3 linked regions of the Homo sapiens genome follow. The protein of the gene in region 3 purifies or fractionates together with the protein of the main gene of each other region. This does not show direct contact. Each region holds a gene or a part of one and is shown on either strand. Other genes may lie near its edges.

What was found.
Region 1: the proteins of NUFIP1 (region 3) and STX1B purify together in Homo sapiens (affinity purification with mass spectrometry; 3 studies listed by BioGRID and IntAct, with this or other methods). This does not show direct contact.
Region 2: the proteins of NUFIP1 (region 3) and SLC12A5 purify together in Homo sapiens (affinity purification with mass spectrometry; 3 studies listed by BioGRID and IntAct, with this or other methods). This does not show direct contact.

The regions. Positions count from the first base shown.
Region 1 is NC_000016.10:31,008,400-31,012,149, forward strand, and holds the start of STX1B (syntaxin-1B), read right to left. Parts: upstream 2,240-3,750; 5' UTR 1,998-2,239; coding exon 1,968-1,997; intron 1-1,967. UniProt on the Homo sapiens protein: Potentially involved in docking of synaptic vesicles at presynaptic active zones. May mediate Ca(2+)-regulation of exocytosis acrosomal reaction in sperm.
Region 2 is NC_000020.11:46,049,566-46,053,215, forward strand, and holds part of SLC12A5 (solute carrier family 12 member 5), read left to right. Parts: intron 1-56; coding exon 57-225; intron 226-2,109; coding exon 2,110-2,305; intron 2,306-3,391; coding exon 3,392-3,561; intron 3,562-3,650. UniProt on the Homo sapiens protein: Mediates electroneutral potassium-chloride cotransport in mature neurons and is required for neuronal Cl(-) homeostasis.
Region 3 is NC_000013.11:44,961,861-44,965,510, forward strand, and holds part of NUFIP1 (FMR1-interacting protein NUFIP1), read right to left. Parts: intron 1-3,650. UniProt on the Homo sapiens protein: Binds RNA.

The sequences.
Region 1 (3,750 bases), on a different chromosome or scaffold from region 3:
CTCCCCTGCCTCCCCCTTACCCCGCTTAGCCTTTTCCCTCCCTCTTTCTCGAATTGTACCCCAATTCCACACCACCTGATCCCAACCCACTTCCATTTCCCTGGGTTTTGGAGTCATGGAATAGTCCTGGTAGCAGGGGAACTGGGTTCAAGTCCGGATCCCTCACCTGCTAGCTGTGTGACCTTTGGAAAGTTATTCAACCACTCTGGGCCTCAGTTTCCCCAACTCTAAAATGAAAGAGCCTCCCCGTCCACTTGCCAGGAGGTCAGTGGGGCTCTAATGACATCACGGATGAAAGCCTGCTCTGCAAACTGAGGAGGGGAATTGACAGCACCGATGCTGAAGCCGGCCTGCCTGGGTTTGAATCCTGCCTTTACCAGCTGTGTGACTTTGGTCTAATTACTTAACCTCTCTGAGCTTAGTGTCCTTATCTATAAAATGAGATAACATATATCTATATATCTAAAAAGATATTTATATATCTATGAAATGAGATAACCAGTCTCATAGGATTGCTGTGAGGATCAAAATGAGTGAATATGCATAAAACACTTCAAACAATGTTTATTATTACTGTCACTTTCCTCATGCCTGAGTGTATATTCAGTAAAAATGTAATAAAGAAACCTTTAAAATTCCCTCCCTCAGCCACCAGCTCCTCCTTGCTTCCCATTTGGCAACCTGTCTGTCCCCAGAGACAGCGGTCACTTGCCTCCAAACACCTTCTTCTCGTCTGTCTGTAACCTGGGTCCCCACCCCCAAATCCAGGGGACAGCTCTTCACCCCCAGTGCTGAAACTTCTGTTTCAAAGGCCAGAAAAGCAGAGACCTGTGTCAACCTAGCAGACAGGAAACCCAGATTGCAGTCTGCCCCCCACCCACTTGCTTGGTGACCTTGGACAAGTCCCTTCCCACGCCTGAATCTCAGTTTCCTCATCTGTCAAGTGGGGTAATAACCCCTGGGGTAACAACCCACCAGTTCCCTGTAAAGGCTCAGTGCATTGGGCAGCTCAGCCGGGGCCGGTACCCTTATTAACATAACACCACCAGCCCAGCACAGTGCGGACTGTCAGTGCTGCCTCCTCGGGCCCCAGGTCATTTCTCCAAATACCCCAGCGTCCTCCCTGCCCCTGAAACCATTCTCATCGAACCCCACTCCCCAGTTCCTCCAGGTAGCAGCCTCCACTGCAGTCCTTCCCCTGTCCCCCCAAAACCAGGGACTGCCTGGCCAGACTCTTGGAGCCGGGCCTCTTCAGGCCTGCAGACCTGGGGCCTGCATCAGCCCTTGACTGCCCGGGGTGCCCCAGTTCCCCCAAGCAGAGCACGGCCCGTGTTCCATGGCCCTCTCCTCTGCATCCCCATCTCCCACCTCTGGGTCACCCTGTCTCAGGCCCTGGCCCTCTGGCTCTCTCCGGAGGCCACCTCTTCCCTCCCTGTCTCGGAGAGATGCCCCCTCCCTATAGGGAGTGACACACGCGTGTGCACACACACACACACTTCATTCACTGCCAGGTGCTGGCATCTCAGTCCCAACCTGTGTCCTTCCCCGTAGCATCCCCTGAATCTGGGTCCTGCTAGACTCTCAGCCTGGCCCAGTCACCGCCCCCATGCTTCTCTTTGGCAAACCTGCCCAGGGGATGACAGTCTCCTCCGGTTTCTCCTGATATCCACTCTCTCCCATCCCCAGACCAGACCCCGGGGCCCTCCTGGGAATGCGGGGTGTTCGAGGCCCCTGAGACCTCTCCTGCCCCCTTGTGTCTTCATGGCCTCCAACCCCTTCCAGGCACTGTCCCCAAAATGCAGGTTCACTGGAGAGACATCAGGCGCCTGAAGATACTGGGGTGCTCCGGCTACCAACCTCCGATCTCATCCTTCGCCCCCACGTCCCAGCACCTCCCCCACTCCATCCCCACGCGCTCCCCCAATATTGGGGTCCCGCCCCCCCATTCTCCCCACCCCCAAGCTCACACTCCGCAGCTCTTGAGTCCGATCCTTCATCCTGCGACGGCTCCTCCTCCTCCTCCTAGTCCTCCTGCCTCTGCTGCTGCTCCGGGTCTCCCGCCTCTGTGCCGGAGGCCGGGGTCTGGGGGCGCCGGGGGGCGCCGCGGCCGCTGCGGGGGGCCTGCGGGCGGGGGCGGGGCCGGGGGCGACTGGCCGAGGGCCGGGCAGGGGCAGGGGCCTGGGCCGGGCTCGGCTCTGCCGGGCTGCGGTGGCGATGCGGCTGCGGCACAGGGTAGGATGGAGGGATGCGGGAGCCGAGCGCGGGGGAGGGGGGCGGAGGGAGGTGAGGAGGAAGCGAGGGCGGGGGGAGCGGGAGCGCGCAAGGAGCAGGGGGCATGCGCAGCACCCGGGCCGGGGGCGCCTGGGGGTTGTAGTCACGGGCTTGGGGGACACCCGAGGAGGGGGCGGGAGAGGCCTGGAGGCGGGTGGGGGTGGGCAGAGCCCGAGGAGCAGGGAGAGATGCGGAGAGCCAAGCGGAGATGCTAGGGTGGCCCGGGGGGTGGGGTGGCCCGGCGGAAAGAGGGGGTGACGGAATGAATTCAGGGAATAACCTGGGAGCCAGGATGTGGATCCCTTTCCAGGAGACACAGATCGCGGCTGTGTTTTGTGTCTGGTGTCTGCGTGAGGCTGCGCGCCGACCACCTCTGGGTGCGAGCCCATGTGTGTTCTTGCAGGAGGCTCTTTGGACACTATAAATAGAAAGACCGACCCTCTGTGTGGTTTTTACGATGCAGGGAACCAGCCAGGTGCTTGCTGAGAAGGACACGGGGCTTGTGTTGCACAGCCTGGGCCTCTCCCGCCGCGGTGGGTCTCGGAGCTCTGCTTGTCTGCCTCCAGGGACAGGGTGCTCACTACCTCCCAGGACCTCTTGGCCCATCTGCAGATGGCTCTGACTGTTGAACATGAAATTTGTCCTTAGTGGGAGGGGAAATCAGGTGCCCCTGAGGGTCTGAGTGACCTCCTGTTCTGATGCCCACCTCTCCTCTCCCCATCCTTACACCACACCAGCTCCTCCCACCCCCTGCAATGGGGCGCCGGTCCCCAATGGGACAGGTCTTGACTCTCAATCGATCCTCCTGCCTCAGCCTCCCAAAGTGCTGGGATTCCATGCCTGGGCCACCGCACCCGGCATTCTCTTGCCAGGTACCCAGTGACCTCCTTGGTGCCAAATCTGTGTCTGATAAACCCTCATCCCACACCGCCAGTCGGGCCTTACCATCCCTGACCTCTCAGCAGCATGTGACCCTGATGAGCCCCTCTTCCTGAAACCCTCCTGTCTGTGGTGCTCCGCCCACCTACCCCCCAACCTGATCTGTGAGTGTTGTCTCCCAGCCTCTTTCCAGGTCCTTACCTTTTTTCCCACAGCCCTTCAACCTCAGGGTTCCCTGGGCTCCGTCCATTCTCTCTTTTTTTTTTTTTTTGAGTTAGGGTCTCATTCTGTTGCCCAGGCTAGAGTACAGTGGTGCAATCTCGGCTCACTGCAGCCTCAACGTCCCAGGCTCAAGTGATCCTCCCACCTCAGCCTCCTGAGTAGCTGGGACTACAGGCACGCGCCACCACACCTGGCTAATTTTATTTTTTGTAGAGACAGGGTCTCACTATGTTGTCCAGGCTGGTTTTGAACTCCTAGGGTCAAGCGATCCTCCTGCCTCAGCCTCCCAAAGTGCTGAGATTACAGGCCTGGGCCACCATGCCTGGCATTCTCTTCCTTCTTTACCTGCATCTTTCTGCACCTCCGTGTCTGCAGTGC
Region 2 (3,650 bases), on a different chromosome or scaffold from region 3:
TGTGTGGATGGTTGGTTACATGGTATATGGATTATGTGACTCTGCACACTCTTCAGGCCACAGCTGCTGGTGCTGGTGCGTGTGGACCAAGACCAGAATGTGGTGCACCCCCAGCTGCTCTCACTGACCTCCCAGCTGAAGGCGGGGAAGGGCCTGACCATCGTGGGCTCTGTCCTTGAGGGCACCTTTCTGGAAAATCATCCACAGGCCCAGCGGGCAGAAGAGGTGAGCAGAGGCCCTGGTTGGGCTTGGGAAAAGGTCAGGACACTTAGGAAGACAGTCTCTATCCTTTTGTACTTTCCTTCCTCATCACCTTCAGGATCAAAGGAAGTGCAGGCATTTCTTTTCTTTTCCTTAGAGGAAGAGCCTAAGAGCCTAGACAGTGAGTTCTTTAGAATTCAACTCACAGCATGAAAGACCATCAGAGGCAGAAGGGCCCATTTTATGGATAAGGAAACTGAGGCTTAGACAAGTCAGGTCATATGTCTAAGGACAGAAAATGAAGATTCAAATTAGGACTCCTTGAACTCCTACTCTAGACTCCTTCCTGCCAAAGTATAAATCTTTCAAGGTGATTTCCCAGCTGTGGACTCTTGATCCCTACAGTCTGGGGTTGACAAGGTGAGTATCCACATTTGATACAGGAAGAAACTGAGACCCAGAGAGGGAAAGCTGCTTGCTGAAAGTCGGAAAGCTGCTTGCTGAAAGTCAGAAAGCTGGTGGGAAGCAACATCAGGATTTGAACTCAGGCCCCTGCTCTGTGTCACCTGCTCTTGGTTCCACCCACTAGTCCATGCTTACAGGGCAGCCTACAGAACCAATGTGGGCTGTGGTGGCCAGTGTCTGCCTTAAGCACACAAAGAGGTGATTGGATCCCAAGGGTAGTAGAGGAAGTAGGTTCTGTCTGAGGGTCAGGCCTTTCTCCCATCAGGGCTGTGGCTAGCAGTGGAGAGAGAAAAAGAGGCCCGAAGGAGCAGAGGTGAGATGGGGAGGGGCACCCCGATGGCTTGCGACAGTCGCTGCTTCTGCCTCACTGGGCTGTTCACACTGATCTGTCAGGGCCCAGAGCTGGAGGCCTTGACTGGTCAGTTCCATTCAACACGCGGTGGCTGAGAATGTGCAGTGCACCAGGCACTGGGCGAGGCACAGGGGAGATGGAGATGTTCAAGACCAAGTCCCAGCCCTCGAGGTGCTCACAGGCTGGTGGGGAAGGCAGAGCATACACAGAAGGCTCTCAGACCCACCGGATGTCGATAAATGCTGTTAGAGTTAATAACATCAGGGTCGTACAATGTGTTGAGTGTTTTCAATTCCTCAGGCAGGATACTAACTAAGCCCTATGTGCATGATGACATGTGGTTCTCCCTATTCCTAAACAAGGTAGCTTGTCCTGACCCCTTGGGTGGTTAGGTGACTCACCCAAGGTCACACAGCCAGGAGGTGGCAGAGATAGGAGTTGAACTTCTATCTGTTTGACTTAGGGGTGGTGGTTAAGAGTGTGGGGGTTGGAGTCAGACTTCCCTGACTTGAATCCTCACAGTAACATTAGCTGTGTGTCCTTAAACAAGTCTTCCTTTCTCCAAGCCTCAGTTTCCCCATCTATAAAATGGGAGTAATAAGACTATTTCCCTCATAGTACAGTTTAAATGGGAGCCCTTAAAATACTTATTATGCTACTTAGAAAGATTGTTGAAACAAATTGTCTGGCTGTGCAGAGAAGCCCAGTTTAATTCTGGTCTGGGTGGGGGTGGTATCTGAAGACGGCGACATTTGAGCTGGGCCAGACAGGGTGTCATGTACAACTTGGCAGGGGCTTGTGTCAGGGTGATGGTGGAGAGCATGTCGGGCAGGGGGGCTGTATGAGCAGTGGGAGGGTGGCAGAAAGTGTGGTCAGATCATGAAGAGCCTTGATTGATCAAGAAGGAATGGGGCACAGAGATGATGGGGAGCCATGTGCCATTCTGGAGCCAGAGACTGACGTGATCAGAGCTGAGCTTCAGGAAGATTGGGATGAAAGGAGGGGAGAGATGGGAGGGAAGGAGGCTACAATGGGCCCAGCCAGGGCCAGGGAGGCCTGAGGCTGGTCCTTGTCTTTTCCCCCTCCCCTAGTCTATCAGGCGCCTGATGGAGGCAGAGAAGGTGAAGGGCTTCTGCCAGGTGGTGATCTCCTCCAACTTGCGTGATGGCGTGTCCCATCTGATCCAGTCCGGGGGCCTCGGGGGGCTGCAGCACAACACTGTGCTTGTTGGCTGGCCCCGCAACTGGCGCCAGAAGGAAGATCATCAGACGTGGAGGAACTTCATTGGTAACGCTATTGGGGGCTGGGGACAGAAGAGGGGTGGGGCTGGGGGCTGTAGAGGGGTGGAACTGGATTTCCGCTCCTTTGGGCCTGAGGGGTTTCCCAAGCACTGCGTGCCAAGTGTGGATTCAGCATATGCAGGTGACAGCAGTCAAGGCTGGCCACGTGCCAGCCACTGTGCTGGGCGCTGGGGACTCCGCTGTGAACGAGACAGTCTTGGCTCCTGCAGCGCTCACAGGCCCTGGGAGGAACACAGTGCAGGGCAGTGGGAAGAGCTACAGCTCTGAAGTCACAGAGGCTAGGCCCACATCTCAGCTCTGGTCCTTCCTAGCTGTGTGACTGTGCACACGTGACTCACTCCCTCTGAGATCAGATTTCTTGGTAATCGTAGGTAATAGTATATATAATAACTAACGTTTCTAGAATGAGTTCTGTGTGCCAGCAAGTTAAGGCTTTCTCTGATTCTCTCATCAGTCCTAGGAGGGCTACGCATTGTTATCTCCATCTTTTTTGATGTGAAACTGAGGCACAGAGAGATTAAGAAGTTTGCTCCAGCTGGGTTCGGTGGCTCACGCCTGTAATCCCAGCACTTTGGGAAGCCAAGGCAGGTGGATCGCTTGCGCTCAGGAGTTTGAGCTGGGCAACCTGGCAAACTACAGAGTAAATGAAAAAGAAGTTTGCTCCAAGTCACAAAGTGGGGAGCCAGGTTTTGAACCAGCCCGGAGGCTACACTGTTAGCTCCAAGCTATTCTGTCTCCTTTATAGGTAGATCATGGTTACAAGGTGTTGGGAGGATTCAGTGTGGTCATACATGATGGGCTCTTAGTAATCAGAAAGGGCAGGTGGTGTTATTGCCATTTGACAGGTGGGGAAACTGAGGCCTAGAGAGGTTGATAGACGTTCCTAGATCTAAACAATAAATATATGATGGGGCCCAAGTAGATGCTGGTTTTCTGACCACTCAGCCCATGGCCAAGGCCAGTTGGAGTGGGGTGGAGTGCTGGCTGCCAGGAGCCCTTGTGGCTGCTGCTGGGTGTTGGGAGAACCAGAGTCACTGTTTCCCCCTCTGGCCCTCTCCTTGGCCTCCCTCAGAGCTGGTCCGGGAAACCACAGCTGGCCACTTAGCCCTGCTGGTCACCAAGAACGTTTCCATGTTTCCTGGGAACCCTGAGCGCTTCTCTGAGGGCAGCATCGACGTTTGGTGGATTGTGCACGATGGAGGCATGCTCATGCTGCTGCCCTTCCTGCTGCGGCACCACAAGGTGAGTTGTGTGCGTGAGTGTATGCACGTGTGAGTGTGTGTATGCATGTATGCATTTGTGTGCATATGTGCACAACTGCAGGTCAGACT
Region 3 (3,650 bases):
GTAATGAGTTAAGAAGATCCTTCACTAATGACATCTATAAGACTTAATTGAGAAAGTAGTGTATCTGTTATTTGCACTCTATTTCACCTTCAAGGGAGTAGTTCTGTTATACCACGACTTGACAATCATTTGAAAAGAAAAGTTTATGTAATCAACCATCTAAAAATAGTTACAAAAGGCATAATGTAAATAAAAATGTAGATGAATATAAAATGGAGAGATTAATAAAAAAAAGATTCCATCCAAAAGAAGGCAAGAAAGGAAGAACAAATTAAAAACCCAACTATATTAGGAATTACATTAAACGTAAATGAACTAAGCACTAGTTAAAAGGCAAAGATTTTCAGTTTGGATTACTAAGAAGACAAAATTACATAATATATAAGAGATACACTTTAAATATAGAGACACAAAAAGTTTAAAAGGAATAGGTTGTTGAAAACACGATCCTTTCTCCACTGCATTATATTGCCAGATTTATCATAAGTTAGGTGATTGTTTCTCAGTGGATCTGTTTGTGGGCTCTATTCTGCTCTACTTATCTATTTATCCTTGGACAACACCACACTATCTTCATTACTCGAGCTTTCTTAGTTGCTGTTCTAGATCCTTTGTATTTTCATATGCAATCATGCACCACATAATGACATTTTGATCAACAATGGACCACATATATGACAGTAGTCCTATAAGATTATAGCAGAGCTAAATAATTCCCAGTAATGTCATAACATCATAAAGTAAAAAATTACTTTTATAAAACAATTTAGTGTAGCCTATGTGTACAATGTTTGTAATGTCTACAGTAATGTATAGCAGCCTCCTGGGCCTTCACATTCACTCACCACTCACTCGCTGACTCACCCAAGGCAACTTCCAGTTCTGCACGTTCTATTCATGGTAAGTGTCCCATTCAGGTATACCATTTTTTGCCTTTAATGGTGCATTTTAATGAAACTTTTCTATATTTAGATACACAAATACTTAGCATTGTGTTACAACTGGATACAGTAACACACGGTACAGGGCTGTAGCCTAAGAGCAACAGGCTTTACTGCACAGCCTAGGTGTGTAGTAGGCTGTATTATCTAAGTTTGTTTAAGTATACTCTATGATATTCATAACGACAAAATTTCCTAACCCGTTTCTCAGAATGTATCCCTGTCATTAAGTGACACATTGTAATTTTAAAGCTTATCAATCTCCCCCATCCCTCCTCCACCAAAAAAAACAAAACAAAAAAAAAACTTGCTGGAATTTTGACTGTAATTAATTGGATTTGGGGGAGAATTAAGATAATTATATTGTTTTCCAGTCCATGACTATTATATATTGCTCCATTTATACAGGCCTTGAATTTTTCTGAGCAATGTTTTGTAGTTCTGAGTGTAGAATCTTGCACATCTTTTGTTAGGTTTATTCCTAGGCATTTGATGCTATTCTAAGTGGTATCTTTTAAATTTTCAATTTTTAATTGTTGCTACTTTATAGAAATAGAGTTGATTTTAAAAATATTGATCTTACATGTATTTGGCAACCTTGCTAAATTCATTTATAAAAGTGGTAACACTGGACATCCTTATCTTGCTTCTAATCTTAGGGGAGGTGGGGGAGTGATCACTATTGCACCATTAAGTACGATGTGGCTACAGAGTATTGATAGATATCCTTTATTAGATTAAAGAAATTATTTTCTATTACTAGTTTGCTAATATGTCTTTTTTATGAACAGGTGGTACATTTTATCGAACTGTTTTCCTTACTCATTAAGTTAATAGCATTTTCCTCCTTCACTTTGTTAATGTGATAAATAAACATGCTCCTGGAATAAATCCCATTTAGTCATGATGTTATATCATATTTTTACATATTTTTACATATTGCCAGATTTGATTTGCTAACATTTTGTATAGGATTTTTGTCTCTCTGCTCAAGAGTTGTGTTTCAAAATTTTCACTTTACATATTTTAAAGCTATGTTCTAGACACATACAGATTTAGAATTGGTATGTCTTCTTGTTGTTGCACTGACTCTTTTAACATTACAAAATATTCCTATTTATCCCTAATAACACATCTTGCTTTAACATCTATTTGGTCTGACATTAATATTGTTATACCAGGTTACTTTTGGTTGGGGTTTGCATGGTATAACAATTAGTGCTGGATCAACTGTAATTCATATGTGAAAAAGTTTTAAAGGTCCTTAAACCCTACACTATGTACAATAATTAATTCTAGACATATACCAGAAACACAAAGCAATAAATCTTCTAAAAGAAAACATAAAGAAATAGTTTTATGATCTCCAAGTAAGCAAAAGTTTTTTTTAAGGCAGAACACACACAGCACTGACCATAAAAATAAAAGATTAATAAATCAGACTTCATGAAAATTGAAATTTTTATTTATAAAAGACACCATTAAGAACTTCTGTTTCTGGCCAAAATAAAGTAACAGGGACTGAATTTATCCTCCTACCTGAAATAACCAAAAAACTAGCCAAAATGAATAAACGATGGTCTCTATGACACAGGGCATGAAGCAACAAGAGAAGTGAGCCCTGAAAGACAGAAAATAAATGAATAGTGAACCCTGCAACTGCCCTTGCTTACAGCCTTAAAGAGTTTCCAGACTGCGGAGAAGAGGAATCCAGATGGGACCTGGTAGAATCCCTGAATTGAGGAACTGGAGTTGAGACACCAGAGAGAGCAAGACATCTAGAGCTTCAGGATGTACCTGAGAGGAAAAAACTACAGAAAGAGAGAGAACTCTAGAGATTTGCAGAGGATTTACCCTGGACTATTTAGCAGAAGACTGATTGGCATGTATTTGTCAGGAAACTATCCAAGGTTGGGGGAAAAAAACGACCCAAAAGGATCAGAGTTATCAGCACCTCATCTTCACTCCGAGTCATAACTAGGGCCTGTTTGTACCTCATATTTCACAGGGCATGGGGTAAGATACCCAGTAAGATATTACATCAGTAGTGAGTAGTTAGTTTCAGACTAAACACTGCTCTGGTTTCATCTAACAAAATCTTAAAAGCAAGATCCAGAAGGATGAAACCGTTTCTAAGTAACTCAGTTGTCTTCCCAGAAAAAAGTTCAAGAACATTTATAGAAACACAAAAATATACAGCACCTGATGTGGTTTGGTTGTGTCCCCACCCAAATCTCATCTTGAATTGTAACTCCCACAATCCCACATGTCATGGGAGGAACCAGGTGGGAGGTGATTGGGTCTTTCCTGAGCTGTTCCTGTGATACTGAGTGAATGAGTCTCATGAGATCTGATGGTTTTAAAAAGGGGAGTTTCCCTGCACAAGCTCTCCTGTCTCTGCCTGCTGCCATCCATAGAAGATGTGACTTGCCCCTCTTTGCCTTCTTCCACAATTGTGAGGCTTCCCCAGCCACGTGGAACTGTAAGTCCAGTTAAACCTCTTTCTTTTGTAAATTGCCCAGTCTCGGGTATGTCTTTATCAGCAGCGTGAAAATGGACTAATACAGCACCCAATAATGTAAAATTTCCAGTGTCAAGTATCCAATCAAAAATTACCAGGCATGGGGCCAGGTGCGGTAATCCCATCACTTTGGGAGGCCAAGGTGGGCAGATCACGAGGTCAAGAGATCGAGACTATCCTGGCCAACA